2 separate regions of the Homo sapiens genome follow, and region 1 is linked to region 2. The links come from fine-mapping of genetic effects on gene expression. A gene starts in region 2. The other region holds a variant in brackets. All regions are shown on one strand. Distances are from middle to middle.

Region 1 (8,000 bases), 20 kb after region 2:
GTGTGTGTGTGGTGAGTGGATGCATTGACATGCACAGATCTCTCAGGACAGACAGGAATCAGTCAGTCCGGGCTGGATCTTAAATAGCAGCTCAGCACAATACCATGCCCATCTGAGCCAGTCTTGAAAGGAGCTTGCTCTTGAGGTTTTGGGTTTGGGGGGCTTGATTTTTTTTTTTTGTCAAATAACTGAAAATGCCAGCAGAAAGATTGTCTGGAGGGAGGCATGAGATGGGGAGCCTGAGATTTCTTAATCAAACTTTCAAGTGTTATTTTTGGTCTTCCGCTGAGCTGGGACCAAAAAAGAATCTGCATATGATATTTACATCTCAAATCTTCAGAGCCTCATTAGCTTTGATAGTTATTTATTTATTTATTTATTTGCAAAAAGGAATTTAAATCAAACAGAGAGGCACAAAAGCAAAACCTTTGAATGTAGTGCAACATTAATTAAAACAGGCAGCCGAAGGGTAGAGTGAAATACAATGGAATCCAGAAAAAAAAAAAGACAATGAAACTAATTAGACTCTGATGGGAAGATCCTTCCTCGTTTGGTGATCATCCATTGGTAATTAATAAGTCACAAATATTGATGTTTGAAGAAAAGTGCCAGAATTTTAACCCCTGTTTTTCCAGAAGTTTAAAAAAAATTTCTTTAGATTCTGATCTTCTAAACTAAATCAGTCAAATGATTGGATGTTGAATTTTACAGTCATGTGTTGGTGACGGATGGGGATGTGTTCTGAGAGGCTATTTCATCATTGTGCCAACCTCATACAGTGTACTTACACACACCTAGATGGTATAAGCTATATGGAATAGCCTTTTGCTCCTAGGCTACAAACCGGTATAGCATGTATCACACTGAATACTGTAGGTAATTGTAACACCGTGGTAAGCATTTACATATGTAAATATAGAAAAGGTCCAGTAAAATTATGGTATAAAAAGTAGAGAATGGTACACCTGTATAGGGCACTTACTGTGAATGGAGCTTGCAGCACTGGAATTTGTTCTGTGTGAGTCAGTGAGTGAGTGGTGAGTGAAGGTGAAGGCCCAGGACATTACTGTATACCACTAGAGACTTTATAAACACTGTAGACTTAGGCCATGCTAAATTTATAAAAAATAAAGTAATTGCACTACAGTATTACAATGGCTACCGTGTCACTAGGTGATATGAATTTTTCATCTCCGTTATAATCTTATGGGACCACTGTCATATATGCAGCCTGTCATTGACCGAAACACCATTACACAGCACAGGACAATATTGTGTTCTGGGGGAAACAGACTAGCCTATACCAGCAACTGGTTAGCTCTCAACACCTGTCCTCAAAATAATGTGCAGGTGGATCGAATTCAACTGTCAGCGGATAAAGATATATCTAATACAAGAGATGCTGGACTCCAGCAGTTAGCATTAACCCAGTGGTGGAACCAACTTGTATATATGAATGGATACAATCCCAGCTAGATTTTTGCCCCTGTATATTTTGAGGCTTTGTTGTATGATCCATGCTTTGTAGATCTGTGAAAAACATTTCCAGGCATCCAGTTGAAAAACCCTTGACCAACAGTATAAAAACGACTTTTAGCTTTGCCTAAGCATAAGGCAGCATCAAAGGGGTCTGGCTTCCTTTTGGGAAGTTCTTTTGAATGAAGTGATCAGTTAGTATTTATGCTTTTTGTCCTTCTGTATTATGCAACAGCACAAATGCACAACTGCCCCAGTGGGACAATCTAATGCATAGCCAGCCAGTCACACAGTTTTAAAGTTGGACGCATGTGTCTTTGGCACGTCCCAGGTCTCCTTTCAACTTCTTTCAGAATCTCTTTTTTACCACCCTCCAGCCCAGCGCTTGAGGTTCTCAGGATGACCCTGGGTCATTTCTAGCTTAAAGAGAGTGGGCTTTGAGAAATATCTTGATAAGTGTTAGTGCAATTTTTAAAGATGGCTAAAATGCTAATGGTGAAATTTCAGGCTTTGTGGCAGTTGGATGAAAGGAATGTTTTTGAGCAAAAGATCTTTCCAACGATCCCTCAAACCTACAATGCATAAAAGTGGACTTGTTTAGATAAGTCAGTAAATTATGCCTAATCTCAGTTTTCCTCCATGTAAAGAGGAAGAAATTAAACTAGAAGTAGAATGATCTTTAAGGTTTATTAAAGAGAGAGAGAGAGAGAGAGAGAATGGTTTGCCATGTGCAAAAAAAGGCAAGGCTCTTCCTTATAAGTAGCACAGGGATTCATTCATTCATTCATTCATTCTGTGTGTGTGTGTGTGTGAGAGAGAGATCTCTGGGCCAAACCCTATATCACAGTTCTTTCACATCATTTCACCTACCCCTTACAACAACCTTTGAGGTGGGTATTCCTAACAGGAGTGGTTGTCAATTTATTTAACTATCAATAAGCCACAGATACTTGCCAATCAGAAAGAACACTGAGTTAAACACTAGAACAGGGTCCTGGAGACCCCTGACTGTGCCAGGTATTTGTTGCTAGATGAGGAAAGAGGTGGGGAGGAGCCAGGGTGCCTGGCACAATGAAGGGGAGATTGGGAAGCTATTTGACAACTGGCCTGGGAAATGCTCTAATTTTTAAACTGCTGGTATGGATTTTGTACTATTGGATATGGCTGAACATCAGCCGTGACTTTCAATCTCCCCATTCTGCAAAGGACAAAGCTGAGGCCCTGGGAGGTCATGAAAGCTTCTCAAGATAAACCCATCAAAAAGCGACAGGCTTGAGTTGAAGGCTACTTTAAGTCTTTGAGACTCCAAAGTTGGTGTTCTTAACCATTATGCTGACTGTACACATGTCTCTAAGTTGACCTCAGTCTGTGCCAGGCTGGCCTGGCATTTCTCTACAAAGAACTGGAGGAAAGTGGATCGGAGGAAAGATCTGGTTTGAGTGGGAGTAGAGTTGGCCGATTTAGTAAGTAAAAATACAGGACACACAGTTAAGTTTGAATTTCAGATAAACAACAAATAATGCTTTTGTATATTTTTAGCTTATTGCACGGGATATATGTACACTGAAAATTATTCATTTTTAATCTGATGTTCAAATTTAACTGGACATCTTGCATTTTATCTGGCAACACTACGTGTGGAGGGAGGGTCACAGGGATGCTAAGACATTTCAAATACCAAGACACTTCAATCTGAAGAAACATTTTCTTTGCTAGGAACTCCCTTTTGCAAAGTCAATGATATCAGCTGTAGTAAGAACACTTCTAACCTTACCCTGAGTACCTCTTTGATTTTAAAGTCATAGAATGTCAAGGCAGAGGTCATTTAAGCCAATACCCTGCCTCACTGTCTTTCTGCCTCTTTCTGTCCTCTCTCTGCCCAAGAAGGCAGAACCCACAGCACCGGCGCTGTGGCTTGGCTTTGAAGCCAAGGAGCATAGCCCACGAGGCATGTCCTCATCTCCAAAGCACATGGAAACTATTCCTTTCCTGAAGGTCTTCATGGTTAGCCTGCTGCAAGTCTCATGGTTTTTCAGCTGCAGTTGTAATTTCTATAGCGCCTCCATCCCAGCTCAGCTGGTATTTATTAGAACACATTCTTTTTGAAAAGAAAACTGTTTCTTAATTAAAGGTTGGCAATCCATAGCCTGTTTGCAGATGAGAAAAATTAAGCAACTACTATGAACAGCGCAGTGTGTCTCCTCTGTTGGTTAGAACATTGCTGTCTAGACACGTGGAGTGTCTCCTGTGTTTTGGGCCGTCCCTGCATTTACATCTGAGTGCATTTTTTTTTTTTTTTGGTGTTGCACAACAAATACTAATGAACCATGAGACCAAATGGAAGAGATTTTGGAGTGAAACAAACTTGTCTTCTGTTTTAACCACTCCCTGTCACAGACTGCTTTTCAAACATAATACCTGGGCGGGGTGGGTGGGGGTTAATGAAAAATGTTTCGTGTCCAAAACCCAGCCTTACTGTCTATGCCAAAGAGTTGGTTTCTGGGGCCAAGTAGAAGCTGAGAGGAGCTGATCTTTGCCTCACCTCTGGACCAAGAATGAAATAAACTTATGAAGAATAAAAATATTCCTTTCATGGGGTGAAGATTCTTAACCTGGGTTCCATGAAATGGAAGACTTCTAAGAATTCCATGGAATTCTTAGCTTGAATGGGAAAAAAAAATGTATTTTTAAATTTTTGCTAACTTCTAACTGACAGTTAGCATTTCCTTCAATTCTGAATGTAGGCAACAACTAAAATTGTATCAGCACTACATGGGACTTTTGTGACTTCGTCATTAATAGATATCACAGATATTTTCATATCACATTATAGTTGCTACAGAGTATCTTGAAACAGACTCACTACTCTCTGGAAATTATAGTGATGAGTAGACCCACCTCTATATCTTATTATATCTTGGTTAATAAAAGCCCACATATTACTATATTAATTTAAATAATTATTTAGATAACTGTTATTTAATATAACTTTTCTTTGTAATGCTGTTTTGTAAATTTTATGCATGCAATGACATTATTCTGGAATGAGCCTTGAAGACTATGCTAAGTGAAGTAAGCCTGACTTGGGATAAATAGGATAATTAAAAAAGGACAAATACTATATGATTCCACTCACATGGGATATGTAGAGCAGTCAAGTTCATTCACAGGAAGTAGAGTGATGATTGCCCCAAGATGGGAAAGGAGGAAATAATGAGTGGTATTGTTAATGGGTGTAGA[C/T]TTCCAGGTTGGGAAGATACAGTTCTGTAGATGGATATGGTGGTGGCTATACAATAATGTGAATACTTAATGTCACTGACTTGTACACTTAAAAATAGTTAAAATAATACATTTTATGTCATGTATATTTTATCACTATTTAAAAATCCACAAGAACAATGCCAATATTTTCATCTCACATTTTAAAACCCACATTATTCCATAAGGAGGTCCATAGACCTCCCCTGGAGGGTCTGTAGCACAAACCTGGCTAAGGCCTCCTGATTTTAAGGGATTGCTTTTCCTGATGCCTTGTACATCTTTCCAGTATGTTTTGCCTGGAGGAATCTTTCTGTCTCTTCAGGGGTCAGCTCAAATACCACTGTCCCTTGGCTCCTGTTCTGTTCCCAGGGCTAATGTGGGGATATAGTCTTCATATTCCTCTAAGCCTATCTCTAATATCCCAGTTGGATCTTATTGCCTGCCAAAAGCCTAAGGCCTTGAGGCCTTTCCCTCTACTTAATTAAAGGGTTATTTGGCAGGTGTAAGAAAAGCACTTAGGCAATATTATTACCAGACTGAGACTTTCTCATTGATGCAATAGGGAAACTTGCTGTGTGAGTCAGTATTACTCAATGCCTTGTCTGGGCATTGATACATATCTCGTGGTCACTTTTTCACATTTTGTGCTACATTACATAATCTTATGAAATCTACAGAACCCGGAGGTTAGTGCTATCAGGCACAGCATTTTGCAGATGAAGAACTGAGACTCAGAAAGCATAAGTCGACTTGTCTGACCCCAGAGATATTTTGCATCAAACATCTTCCAGAGTGGCAGGATTCCTTGGGAGTAGCCCAAGCTTCATTTGATGAAGATCACTCATTGGAGAATCTGTCTTTGAACCTGACAGAGGAAAACAAGGTACTAAATAAGTAAGGACTTTGGATCCTCAGAGTTGGAAGGGCCCAAACTACCTAGTTTGTCCCACCTGTTTTAGATGTGGAAACTCTTGGGTCAACACCAGAAGAGTAATAACCACCACTGTGCTCTTGACGTGGATTATCTCAATGATTCTGAAAATTTCATCACTGTGGGCTCCTTTTATAATTTTGGACATATTTGAATGTTATTGATACTATGATCTACTTAATGCTGTTCTCCCCTTTAAATGGATCTGCTTTTAAAACCTAAATCCATTTACTCACACAGAAAATTTTATACTATTTCTGTGAATAGAAAACCACTAACCATAAAAATTATTCCAATAAAAAAGAAAATATGTATTAAGTTCTACCTAGACACTGTTGCCTGCAGTGGGACTCTGAGCCTGAAGTCTTCACTCCCTTTGTTAAAACACAGAGAACAAAACAACAAAAATAATTAGTACTTGTTAGGCATTAAAGACACAATAGCATCAACTGGAGACTTTCTTGACGTAATTAGAAGAATTCAAAGAGAGCTAAAAAGGACCTAATACACTTACTGTTTGAGTCAGTGCTATTTAATGCCTTGTCTGTGCATTATTTCAAATCATTTTCAATACCACCCGTGGTCTCTGCACCTCTGGAAACACCCCATTATCTTAGCTCATCCTCGCAATAATCCTATGAGGTAAGTACTAGCACTAGGACTAGTTAGTACTGCCCCATTTGTTGGATGCACAGCCAGTCAGGCACCCCTGCTCTCTCTGTCTCCAGGGTGCCTGACCACAGTGATATTCTGTTCTGTGTTGCAACTACCCATAAAAAGAGCCTTTGGCAGCATCTTGTGGGTCCCCATAAATCTTGCAGGTCCAGATGTCCATCCAGGAATAAACTCCACTGCATGGAGCCCCATGGTGAGACGGACTGCAGGCTTGCAGCCCCACACCTATGCACCGGCAACGTGCCCCCAGGAACACAGGACCAACTCCAAATTTGGGAATGAAGATAATGTTCAGGGGAACACAGGACCAACTCCAAATTTGGGAATGAAGATAATGTTCAGGTAGGAAAGGAGGAGTGCACAGGAGAGGAAGGAAGTGAAAGCAAGTGGTGGAGAGGACAAGGGGAGCCTCAGGGTCCTCATTTGGAAAATGGGGCAAGAAGACCTGCTTCACAGGATGGTTGATTGTTGGGAGGATTTGAACACATAGCAGGTGATTCACTCTCCCTCTCCCCTCCCTCCTCTCTCCTCTGGCCCATGTCTGTCCCCCTCCCCTCCTCTCCGCTCCTCTTCTTTCCTCTCCTCACCTCCCCTCTCTTCTCCTCCCCTCCCTTCCCCTCTTCCCTTCTCTCATCCCCTCTTCTCCCCTTCCCTCACCCCCATCATACAAACTCACAGACACACATATGTATTGACGTAGTTTTAAAAGTGAAAATAGGGAATTTGTAGCCAAGGTCTGCTCTGACATGACAATAAATGGGATGAGGGAGGCAAGAGAGCCCGGAGAGACAGAGTCCCCTTGAGCTTCAGGGAAAGCTTCCCAGGAGCTGGAGAAAGGGGTCCCTCAAGAGCTATCATCTGACATTGACCGGGAGGTCCCTCAAGGCCAAACAGGCTCTAATGGTAGTTCCACCATTGGAACCTCACGCCTTTGAGGTAAGCATTGCTCTCTCTTCTGCAGTTTCTGTAAAGAAATGCAAGAGCTGGCACACAAAGCAGAAATGCACATTTCAAGCACTTTCTTTCAACAGAAGCCTTGGGAAAAGAGGGGACCATGAGAAATGGAAGGAAAAGGGGAAAGGACAGGACTCAGCCAAGGTAGATGCTTCTCATTCACACATGGGCTCCAGGGTTCTGAGGCTTCACATAAGCCTAAGACTGGGAGAGGAGGTGGCCCAAGCCTGCAGAAGGACATGATTTCTGTGGCGTGTGGCTGTATATCAGTTTCCTCCACACCAGCCTCTTATCTCCTGTAGGCAGAAAGGCGAGGCTGATGGGAAGGCCAGATTATACCCCTGACTGGGCCTGCTTCTCATCGCTGTTAAACCACTTCCTTGGACTCCTTTGAGCTCGGCACATCTGGCAACCCGGTGGGCTTTTTCTTGAGGACCAGGGAAAACACAAACCCAGACTTGTGTGGGTGTGTATGATCCGTAAATACTCCCAACGTGCTGATGGAAGTTCCAACTTGTTCTGTGTCCCCAAACAAGCTCGTCCCCTCCCTGGGCCTCGGTTTCCTGAACTGCAAAATTGTGGCAGGGAGACAAGGCTAGCTGATGTCTAAGAACTCTTCTTGTCTTGAAATTAAAACATTAATAATAATAGAGGCACTGCTTTCACCTCCAGGGGTGATAACCAGGGAATGCACAGAGAAATA
Region 2 (11,662 bases):
AAGGATCTGTTCTCTCAGACCACAGGTTCGCTAAGGCGGGGTGACTCCAGCCCCGATCCCACATTTCTAAGGCGCGCTTCCTTCTGCAGATAGGCTGCGCCATCTGGTGGCCACTTTTGGAGAAGCAGCCTCAGGGCTCAGAGCGGCCTAGATCAGCCCATTCTCTGGGCTCATGGCACCATCTAGTGGCTTTAATGCACAATCACGGTCCATTAGCTTCAGCCTCAGCATCGCCTGAGGATGAGGTTTTTTAAAAAATTCTGGGACTCCATCTTAGAGCTACATAATCAGAATTTGGGGGAATGCATCCACAGAATTTATATTTTAAACAAGATTCCCGTGCGATTCTTAACTCTGGAAAATTTTGAGAATCATGACCGTACAAATACTTCTGCTGAATTATTTGCACCTGCTCCTCACCTGTTTGGTAATAAAATCAGCATCCACTTTACGTCTCAGAAAGCTCATTTACTATTTATTGGCACTACTTATCCTCTTAAGAGGGAGACGGGACAGGCTGAGGTTCTTGTTTGCAATTTAAAGTTGAGGAAATGGGGACCCAGAGAGTAACATGTACTCACCCACGACCACACAGTGAGCCAGCAGCTATCTTCCCTCCTCGCTCTTGGCACGTGGGGGGCAGAAAGAAGGAGCATTTGTCATCAGGAGGCCTGGGTTCTCCTAGCTGCACTTTGCGAGCAAGAGCTCTGCAAAAGTGAGATGGTGTCACTGGGGTGGGACTTGTTGGCCCCTGGGTCATACGATGCTCTTGTTTGTCTGTCTGTCGATTACTGTAGCTATCTGGCTTGCCCATTCTTCATCCTGGTTGGGTCGAGGGTGGGGCTGGGCAGTGACCTGTCAATCAGAAATAAGGACATGGAAGTCTTCCAATCATAATAGCTTGCACTTGTTGACAGTGTTACAATATTGTTAGGCCCTGTTCTAAGTACTTTACATGTATTAGTTCATGTGATCCTTGCCACAGCCCCTGAGAATGCATTATTATTATGGTCATCTCTTTATGCATGAGGATACCAAGGCACAGAGAAGTTAAGAAACTCACTCAAGGTTACACAGAGAGTGAGTGTTGACCCAGGCAATCTGCTCTGGTGCCCACACTCTTAGGCTGGTGCCATCCAGTGCCCCCGGAGCAAGCAAGATTTGGCTTCTGCACCCTCAATGACATCAGTATTTTCTCTGGGCATCCTCGGCCAAAGCACCGTCCCTCTGGGGCTCTCTGTCTCTATATGTTTATTTGCCTGGTAAATGCTTATTAAGCCCTGTGCTGAGTGCTGGATATATAGCAGCAATTAACCGCAGTCATTGCTCTTGTGGCGTTTGCATTCCAGTGGGGAGACAGGCAATACAGAGCAAACAGACTCATACACAAGGTAATTTTAGATGGCTAGGAGACCTGGGAGGGATGAGGTCAAGATTATCTGATGAGGGCAACTTGAGAATGGGTCGTCAGGGAGGGCCTCTTGGAGGCCCTTGTTAGGTGTGAGTCCTGAAGGAGGAAAATGAAGCAGTCACATGCAGAACAAGGGGAAGAGTGTTCCAGGTAGAGCAGATGGCAAGTGCAAAGGCCCTGGGGTGGGAACAAGCTTTTTTGTATTTGAAGAACAGAAGAAGGCCACTGTGGCTGGAGCAGAGCGACAGGCACAATGAGCTTTTGTGGGTTTGGTTGGCGAGCATGTGTCCCCATCTCCTTGGGAGTTGTCCCTCCTCCCCACTGAGGACAGTGTTTCTGGGAAGGTGGATTGGGTTACTGTCCTGCCCTCTTCAGAAGCCAAGACAGTTCTAAGCCTTCCTCCTACTACCCTGCCAGGGTGGGGCTGTAATCTAGGCTGAGCCAATGGGACACTCATATGGTTTTTTTTTTTTTTTTTTTTTTTTGAGACAGAGTTTCACTCTTGTCACCCAGGCTGGAGTGCAATGGCATGACCTCGACTCACTGCAACCTCTGCCTCCTGGGTTGAAGCAATTAGCTTGCCTCAGCCTCCTGAGTAGCTGGGATTACAGATGCCCACCACCAGGCTTGGCAAATTTTTATATTTTTGGTAGAGACAGGGTTTCACCATGTTGGCCAGGCTGGTCTCGAACTCCTGACCTCAGGTGATCCACCTGAAAGTGCTGGGATGACAGACGTGAGCCACCGTGCCCGGCCCACTCATATGACCTCGCGTGACATAGATACAGATGGAACAATGGCAGCCCAGGCACAGCAACTGCGGGACCCTGAGGCCTGGTGTTCCCACCTTGATGTCTGCTCCAGTTGCCTGGCTCCCTTATCCTATTCTAACAAATCCCCCTTCGCTTATGTTGCCAGAGTTTACTTCTGTGGCCTACACCCAAATGACCCTACTGATGCAGTGGAGGAATGAAGGCAGATGAAGTTGGGCCCAGATGCGCTAGGCCTGGTTGGCCAAGCCAAGGAATTGGGTTGTGTTCCAAGGAAAATGAGGTCCCTGGGGATTTTTCTGGCACTGCCCTTCTGAGATGCTGTGATTCTGTGTGGGTGGCTTCCCACCTATGGGCATGACCTTAATCCACCAGCCCCTGTCCAGAAGCTCTCCCCTGCCCACCCAGGCCCAGGTCCCCACCACACTCTACCGCTAATGCACAATTGCCCTCCGCAGGCACCCAGGCAAGGTGAGCTTGGGATTACTTGTGTATTTCCCATGCACCCCCAATAAGGTCTCTCTATGGCTCAGATAAACATCTCTAAGATTTTATCCCTACCATACACTCCACCAAATGAAGAGTAAAACGAGAAGGGAGGAGAAATAGACAATCAGAACGTTCATCTTATATGTTGTGGAGCCCAGGAAGGGGACTGAGGAGGGGTCAGGGAGCCAAGGTTCAGCCAGTGCCCCAAGTGCCTCCTGCCCTTGAATTCCGAAGCATCAGGAATCAGTCACGGTAACAACAGCCAGCTGGTGACCCCAATCCCTCTGCACAGCAACAAGCCTTGGCTCTTGTTTTTCTAAGAATCCAGTCAATCCTCTTTCCTGTAAGTTGCAACCCAGTCCTCCCCCCAGGCCGGGCTGAGGACACAGCTTGTCTTCCCGATGGTGTCACCTAGAACTCTGGTTCCCCTGCTCCCTTTCTCTTCAAATAGGAAAATTGGCACAGCTTGACTTTCTTCCACTGCCCTCCCAGCCACAGCTTAGACACCTACAAACTCCCACCGCAGGCTGGAGTGCCCTGGAGCCCTAACTGTGATACCCAGGTCAGTTTCCAAATCTGTACCTTTCTGCGTCTCCTGTTCCAACTCTCAGTGAACTCAGCTGGTTCCTGCCCTTCCTCCCCAATGACCAGCCCTGAGGAATTGACAGCTAGGCCACAGCCGCCTCTTCCTCCAGCTTGACCCTAATTGGAATAAGTACCTCTATCATGGAATCCCAGAGGGACTTACGGTGGGGTTGTAGGCAGTGAGCCATGATTGCACTACTGCTCTCCAGCCTGGGCAACAGAGTGAGACCTTCCAAGAGAGAAAGAGAGAAAGAGGGAAAGAGAGAGAGAGAGAACAGAAACAGGAAAAGAAAGAAAGAAAGAAAGAAAGAAAGAAAGAAAGAAAGAAAGAAAGAAAGAAACCATTTAACATTTAAAGTTTACATTTAACAAGGGCTTACAATATGCCAGGTGTTTTACAAGTATTCATTAATTGATTCAAAAGACATTTATTGAGGGGTGTAAAATGATTATCTCTATTTTATAGATGAAGAAACTGAGGCACACAGAGGTGAAATAGCTTGCACAAATGTTGCTTAGCTGGTAAGTAGATTAGTCATGGCAAAGCTAAGCTAGGCAGCCTGCCTTCTTTTTTTTTTTTTTTTTTTCCGTGATGGAGTCTTGCTTTGTCATCCAGTCTGGAGTGCAGTGGCGTGATCTCGGCTCACTGCAACCTCCACCTCCCAGGTTCAAGCGATTCTCCTGCCTCAGTCTCCCAAGTAACTGGGATTACAGGCATGCGCATTTTTTTTTTTTTTGTATTTTTAGCAGAGACAGGGTTTTGCCATGTTGGCCAGGCTGGTCTCAAACTCCTGACCTTGTGATCCACCCACCTCAGCCTCCCAAAGTGCTGGGATTACAGGTGTGAGCCACCATGCCCAGCCCTTATAGTCTTAATAACTGAAAGACAACAGCTTCTAGAAGGATTTTGTAGCTCTCAGCATTGCCTGCCATGTCTGCACTGGGCAAGGCCTTTCCCGGGCAATTTCCTTTCCCATGACAGAAAATGGGTGGTGACCACTCTATCCTGATGTTGTGTGGTCAGCTATCTGGCTGTGGGTGCAAAAAGGATGCACTGAGACCAGGTTTTGAAGGCATTTACAGACACATGGAGCTCTTGGAAGGCTCCTCAGCTTGTCCTCTGGAGTGGTTCTCAGAGGTGGATGATGCCGCAGAAGCAGAAATGCTGCAGGTTCTCGCTTGGAACCTTCCATCCAGTCCAGGCCTGGAGGAGCAGCCATCCAGGCAGGAATTGCAGGAAAGGCTACAATCCGTAGAGAGATCTGAAAATGAGTCTATCTTAGTGAGGCAGCAGTTGGGAGCAAGAAACAGAAGCCCCCTTAGACTAACTAAGGAGAAGGGAGTCGGAGTATGATTACAAGAACCCTAGGAGGCCAGCGGCGGGGCTTGAAAATCACGGGCTCAGGCTGCACTCAGCTCTTTCTCCCTGCGGTCTCTGTTCCCCAAGCTCCCCTCTCTGCAGCCACCCTGGGCAGCTCACTCTCCCTATCCCCTGACCCCTCACAGTGGCTCCGTGTGATCTCTCGGTCCACTCAGCTGTCCTTCCAGGTCCCTGTGGAGAATCCCTGAGATAGGAACATAGAAGGTGTGGGGGCCAGAGGGGGTGCAGAAGGTGAGGCACCATTTCATCCGTAACAGCCATGACCAGAAATGCTAGTAAATGCTTTTTGAGGCTTGTTTCATCGTGAGATTTTGCTTCAGAGGCCATTTGGGCGTTTTTCAGCCCTGGCCTCTTTGGCTGCCGGAAATAAGATCCCACTCTAGCAAAGGGAGGTCCTTTTTTCTTCTTTTACAATTCCACATCTTTCCAAGGGTGATATTCAGTAAGCCCACCTCAGATGGCATCTGAGAGTGTTAGATTTTGCTCATCTGATGCTGAGGATGGTGTCTGAAACACAGTCAGTGCTGAGTAGTTGTTGTGAGCAGGAGCGGTTGGCTTCCTGCATATCCCAATGAAATCAGCCCGGGGGCTGCAGGGTGCTTTTCGGAGGGGCCATTCCCCAGGAGAGTGAGGATTGTGGGGATCCCAGTCAGTCCTGTCTCTCTGAATTCAGCCAGCTGCTTTCCTGAGCTCCCAAACAAGGCCGTTTTTTCAGCATCTATTACATTGGTGCAAAAGTAAATGTGGTTTTACTCAATGGTAAAACCACAATTACCTTTGCACCAACCTAATAGGGTTCCAAGACCTTGGGTGTCACAGGCCCAGGCAAATGAAGCTGAGGGCCAGGGGTGAGAGGAGATGGCTGGATTGGAGACTGGTGCATGAACTGGGCATAAGCACTGCAGGAGGGAAGCTGGGTGGGGCCTGGGAGAGCTGCTTTCGGGGATTCTGAGGCTGCAAAGGAGTCTGTGGTTGGAAATAACCCCCAAGAAAAGGACAGACTGGTGTCAGGGTGTGAAATGTCCTTAGACCTCTCCTCTGCCCCACCCCAGTGACCTAGAACTCAGCTAGTTTTGATGCTTGTTGAACCAGAAATGCTGTTGACTGAGTCTCTGAACCCTCTATTTTTTTGTAGGGGGAGGGAGGGAGTCACATAGAGCTGCTTTTTTTTTTTTTTTTTTTTTTTGAGACTGAGTCTCGCTGTATTGCCAGGCTGGAGTGCAGTGGTGTAATCTCGGCTCACTGCAACCTCTGCTTCCCGGGTTCAAGTGATTCTCCTGCCTCAGACTCTTGAGTATCTGGGATTGCAGGTGTGTGCCACCACACCCAGCTAATTTTTGATGTTTTAGTAGAGACAGAGGTTCACCATGTTGGCCAGACTGATCTCAAACTCCTGGCCTCAAGTGATCCATCTGCCTTGGCCTCCCAAAGTGCTGGGATTGCAGGTGTGAGCCACGGTGCCCGGCCTGAGCTGCTTTTTAAAACATGAATTAGTTGCTATATCCGTTAGCTGTTGCTGCCTAACAAACCACTCCAAAGCATAATGGTTTCATACATTTTTTTAAAATTAGTCTACAGGCTGGCTGGGTGGTTCTGCTGATCCAGGCTTAGCTGATCTAGGCTGGGCTCTCTTTCATCTGCAGAGCTGATGGGTCAGCCGAGCTGGGCGGGTCTATGCAGCCCATGGGATGGCGTGGCTCTGCTCTGTGTGGGCTCTGGTCCCCAGCAGTGCAGCCTGGGCTTGTCTTCACGGTGGAGGCGGCTTCCAAGGCAGAGGATGGAAATGTGCAAGGCCACTTGAAGCCTAGGCTCAGAACAGACACAACTTTGCTTCTGACACACTCAGTGAGTCACAGCAGATTCAACGGGTGGGGAAATAGACTCTAGCTTGCAATGGGAGAGGGTACAAAGTCACTTATAAAAAGTTTGAAGACGTGGAAGATTGGGGCTATTTTTGCCATCAGTCTACCAAGTCACTAGTATTTCTAGCCTTTCTTAGCAAATTCCCAGTATCCACAGTAAACTGAAACAAAATAGGAACCACCCTTTCAGGATGGTTACTGTTAGGATGTGCTGTTTCTGTTTTTTTTTTTTTTTTTTTTGAGATGGAGTTTCACTTTTTTTGCCTAGGCTGGAGTATAATGTCGCGATCTTGGCTCACCACAACTTCTGCCTCCCGGGTTCAAGCGATTCTCCTGCCTCAGCCCCCTGAGTAGCTGAGATTATAGGCATGTGCCACCACAACTGGCTAATTTTATATTTTTAGTAGAGGCGGGGTTTCTCCATGTTGCTCAGGCTGCTCTTGAACTCCCGACCTCAGGTGATCTACCTGCCTCGGCCTCCCAAAGTACTGGGATTACAGGCCTGAACCCAATCTCACTAGGTCTGTCTTTCATATCTCTTACCTACTTGGCCCTGTAGGCAAGTGAGTTGACCATCTCGTCCTCCAATACAACCAACTCATGCTCATGAACTGGCTCCCCATTGTCTACAGGAGAAAACTAAACTCCTTAGCTTGGCAGTAAAGGCTTTTTGCCATGGACTATTCCAGGCTTACCTCCTGCCTCTGCCTTTTGTCCCTCTCCTCAGCTCTCCCTTACACCCTTAGTCCTTGTCACACCTTTGCAAACACAAGGCCCTTTTTCTTTATGTTCTTCTGAACCTGTCTACTTTGCAACCTGTTCCTTCTGCCAGGAATACTCTTTCTGTGCCTGGAGAAACTTTCTTCTCCTTCAGGGTGTGGCTCAATGTTGTGTCTACAATGTCTCACTCTATCCTTTTGGGCTTCCCTTGATGCCATCCTTCACATCTTGACCCAGCACAATTGACTCCTCCTTCCCCAGCTCTGTCTTTGAGAGTGTTATAAACACAGCCCTCTTACTCCACCTGATGCGGCTGTAGATGTGCCAGACTGCCCTGAAGTGTGTGTTTTCACCAACACACCTGCATTCACGTCTTGCCTCCACCACTCTTGAACTCGGTTACCCTGGGCAGGTTAGTTGATGATTTCTTTGAGCCTCAGTTTCCCCATCTGTGAAATAAGTTTACAATATATCTACCTTCGAGTGTTGTTCTGAGAGGCTCAATTGAGGTAGCAGGTAGAATATACTTAGTATGGTGCCTAGAACATAGCAGACGTTCAATAAATATTCGTTGTATGAACAAATAGCCCAGGCCCAAGTCCTTTGCAGCCTCAGCACCTCCCAGCCTTCATGAGACCCTCTCTGTTTCTTTTTGGGCAATAATATTTCTGTTCTTCAATCCATGTCAACTTCTTAATCACTTTGTGGGGATGGGAGTAAGGGGCACAAAACATGCCCACAAAGTACTTGAAATTATTGCTATTCAGGAATCAAAAGGCAAAGATTAGTTGCCTGTCTCTGTCTCACAAACAAATTAATGGAGTGGCAGCTTTTGGTGCAAAATACAGTTCTTGTCGAAAGGATTATAAGTATTAAATCCAGCTAGAATATACTGTGATTGCATGTGTGTGTGTGTGTAAAGCAAAGCTGCAATAATCATACATTTACAACTAATAAATTGGGTCCTTTAATTCCTCTGCAATAAGCCTTTGAAATATAATCTGTCATTTCAGACTTACAGAACATGACTTTTCATAATTATAATTCTCCAGCACACATTACTACTTATAATTAAATTCACTTTTAGGAAATATGGAGCTTTTTTGTGGATTATCTGTTCATACGATGTCATGATGGTAAAATTAATGTATAATCTGTTGAATACATTTGGTTAGTTTTTGGATAAAAAACACATACTCTGCTATTGATCAAAAGCTGGAAAGACAGATGAGCTGAACAAAATATATACTACTTCTCAGCAACTGGCTCAAACAAAGCCAAAGCAAACCCAGGCATGTCTTTCCCATCCCTGCCTCCCAAATAGGGCATCTAGGACAATGAAAAAAAAGCATTTGAGTTATTTGAAAGGACACAAATGTTAAATTATGGCCAAATTGTCTGCTGGAGATGACACAGTGTCATAAATTTTGAACAGCAGTTGAGTAAAGGTCTCTTGCTGGATGGATGATCAGAAAACAGACCCCAAAAGGCTCCAAACCAGCAACCGTGTGCAGGAGACATATACGGATTCATGAGCTAAGACACAAAGGAAAAGATAAGCAGATAAGGAAAAATGAAAACCCTGAGAAATAGGCACAGAGAAAGTGGGCATTCATGGTCTAACAGCACCATCTTCAGCGTTTTTTTTTGTTTTTTTTTTTTTTTTTTGAGGCAGAGTCTAGTACTGTCATCCAGGCTGGAGTGCAGTGGTGCGATCTTGGCTCACTGCAACCTCTGCCTCCTGGGTTCAAGTGATTCTCCTGACTCAGCCTCCCAAGTAGCTGGATTACAGGCGGGCGCCACCATGCCTGGCTAATTTTTGGTAGAGACAGGGTTTCACAATGTTGTCCAGGCTGGTTTGAACCCCTGACCTCAGGTGATCCACCCACCTCGGCCTCCCAAAGTGCTGGGATAACAGGCGTGAGCCACCGTGCCTGGCCCATCTTAAGCTTTTCATCAAAAAAGCTACATTGCATTTTTACAACTCTGGACAAAAATGTTTTATCCAGCTCAAGGTCAAGGCTGGCCAAAGCCATGAATTGGTGTGTTCCCTACTCATGTCTCAAGAGAATTAAATGCTTCCTGAAGACTGGATTTGAAGAATGATGAGGAAATCTCTCCCCACCAGTGGAAATGTCCTTCCAGGTTGATTCTTTTTCCTAAGGCCCAGGAGGAAGACCTCTGTTTCAAGGGTAAGGTTTTCCTGAGAGGGGCAACTTGAATGAGAAGTCAAATATTTAGCATGAACCTGACAACGTGTGTAACTTTGACAGAGGTGTAAGAGAGAGGGCACCTCTGCACTTGGGACAATGAGTTTGAGCAAGAGGACTGGGTGAATTGCTGTTGATACAGGAGTGGCTTCCAGGAGCAAAAGGCAGGGAAAAGATTAGAGAAGGTCTATATGTGTATGTGTGTGTGACAGTGTGTGTCTATATGTGTGTCTTTATGTGCCTGTGTATATACACGTTTGTGTGCATGTGTTTATGTATACATGTATCTATGTGTATGTGGTCTGTACATATGTGTGTCTGAGTGTGTAAGCATGTATCTCTAGGGGTGTGTCTATGTGTCTGTCTGTGTATGTCTGTCTGTGTATGTGTGCCTGTGTCTTAGTCCATTTGGGCTGCCATAACAACATTTCATATACTGGGTTACTTAAAATAACAGAATTTATTGCTCACAGTTCTGGAGGCTGGGAAGTCCAAGATCATGGCACCAGCAGATTCAGTGTCTGGTGGGGGATCCCTTTCTGGTTAACAGACAGTGACTTCCAGCTATGTCCTTATGTAGTTGAAGAGACAAGAGGTCTCTCTCTGGCCTCTTTTATGAGGGCACTGATTCCATTCACAAGAGCTCCTACCTCATGACCCAGTCACCACCCAAAGGCCTTGCCTCCTAACACCATCACCTTGGGAGTTAAGATTTCAACATGGGAATTTTGGGGAATACTGACATTTAGACTATAGCAGTCCGTGCATGTGTGTATGTTTCCATTCTGAGTGTGTGAGTGTGTGAGTGTCCCTGTGTGAGTGTGTGTGTCTGTCTGGTATCTGAGTGTTTATGTGTGAATGTGAGTGTCTGAGTGTGAGTGTGTGTGTCTGTCTGGTATCTGAGTGTTTATGTGTAAGTGTGAGTGTCTGCATGTGACTGTGTCTGTCTGGGAACTGAGTATCTCTGTGTGAGCGTCTGTGTGACTGTATGTGCCTGTCTGGTATCTGGATGTGTGCGTGTATGTGTGTGTGTGTGCGCGCACGTGGTGTGTATGAAGACAGTGAGAGGGAGAAGAGAGGAACAGGCCTTAGGCAAGTTTCTTCTCCTTTCTGGCTCCTGAATTCTCCATCAGTGAAACGATTCTTTCCCCAGTGAGTCAGTTAATCTACCAACGTTGCCCTGCTATGTGCCATCTCTGTGAAAGGTACCAGGGATGCAGAAGTGGGAGTCAAGGGGCACTGCCCTCACAAGCTGTCTGTGGCATCAGGTGGTGGATGATTATGGCTGGCATCTTCCCAGGGACCTCACATCAACAGCAAGAAGGGCCACCACCTGTGAGGCAGGGCCTGCCTTCCCCGCGTTATTAAAAGTACGTGCCTCCCCTGTAATCCCAGCACTTTGGGGGGCCAAGGCGGGCGGATCACAAGTTCAGGAGATCAAGACCATCCTGGCTAACATGGTGAAACCTTGTCTCTACTAAAAAAATACAAAAAATTAGCCAGGCATTGTGGCGGGCCCCTGTAGTCCCAGCTACTTGGGAGGCTGAGGCAGGAGAATGGCGTGAATCCGGGAGGCAGAGCTTGCTGTGAGCCGAGATCGCACCACTGCACTCCAGCCTGGGCGACAGAGCGAGACTCTGTCTCAAAAAAAAAAAAAAAAGAAAGAAAGAAAAGTACGTGCCCCCACCATGCATAAGGACAGGGTTAGGACTGCCAGGGGACAGAGGAGGAAGTCCCTCACTTGGCAATAGCTCTCTGGCTGTAGCCCAGGCAGTCACTACTCTCTGAGGTGGTGATGGATGCCACTTTCCTAGGCTCTCCATTGTTAAAGACTCGAAATGCTGCAATCTCAGCAATTATGGAAGCATTTCTTGTGGCTATGGTCCAGGCAGGGCACAAGGAGGAAGTCATGGGCAGATTCAAGCAGGAGAAGCCTATTAAGACAAGCTCTCTAAACAGAGGTGATGTCAGCACAAAGATCAGCATTGGCCTTGGGCCTGAGATGAGATCAAGGACTGAGCAGAAATCACCACTGTGCCAACTTAAAGTCTCATAAATGTTTCTCTGGTTTGTGCTATGGAAAAGGAGAAGCCTAAAGATGGAAAGGCATTCGCTCAAGGTCACACACAACTGAGAGGCCAAGACAGGTCTAAGGACATTGACTTTTAAAATTTTTAGTTTTCTATTATTTTTAGAGACATCTCATCTGCCACCTAGGCTGGAGTGCAGTGGCG

Evidence for each region. PIP is the estimated chance that this variant, and not a neighbour inherited with it, causes the effect.
Region 1: its variant is the best candidate, but not a certain one, in a credible set for the expression of MMP2-AS1 in vagina (GTEx, PIP 0.82).

Annotation. Positions count from the first base shown.
Region 1 is chr16:55,435,158-55,443,157 of GRCh38, reverse strand. The region is part of intron 4 of MMP2-AS1 (MMP2 antisense RNA 1); the gene reads left to right. Among named protein-coding and RNA genes, the nearest start is that of MMP2-AS1, 23 kb to the left of the region's middle. The variant C/T (reference allele first, on the strand shown) is at 4,717.
Region 2 is chr16:55,453,745-55,465,406 of GRCh38, reverse strand. MMP2-AS1 (MMP2 antisense RNA 1) reads left to right here and starts at 3,110. Exons shown (of 7, transcript NR_147198.1): 1 at 3,110-3,232.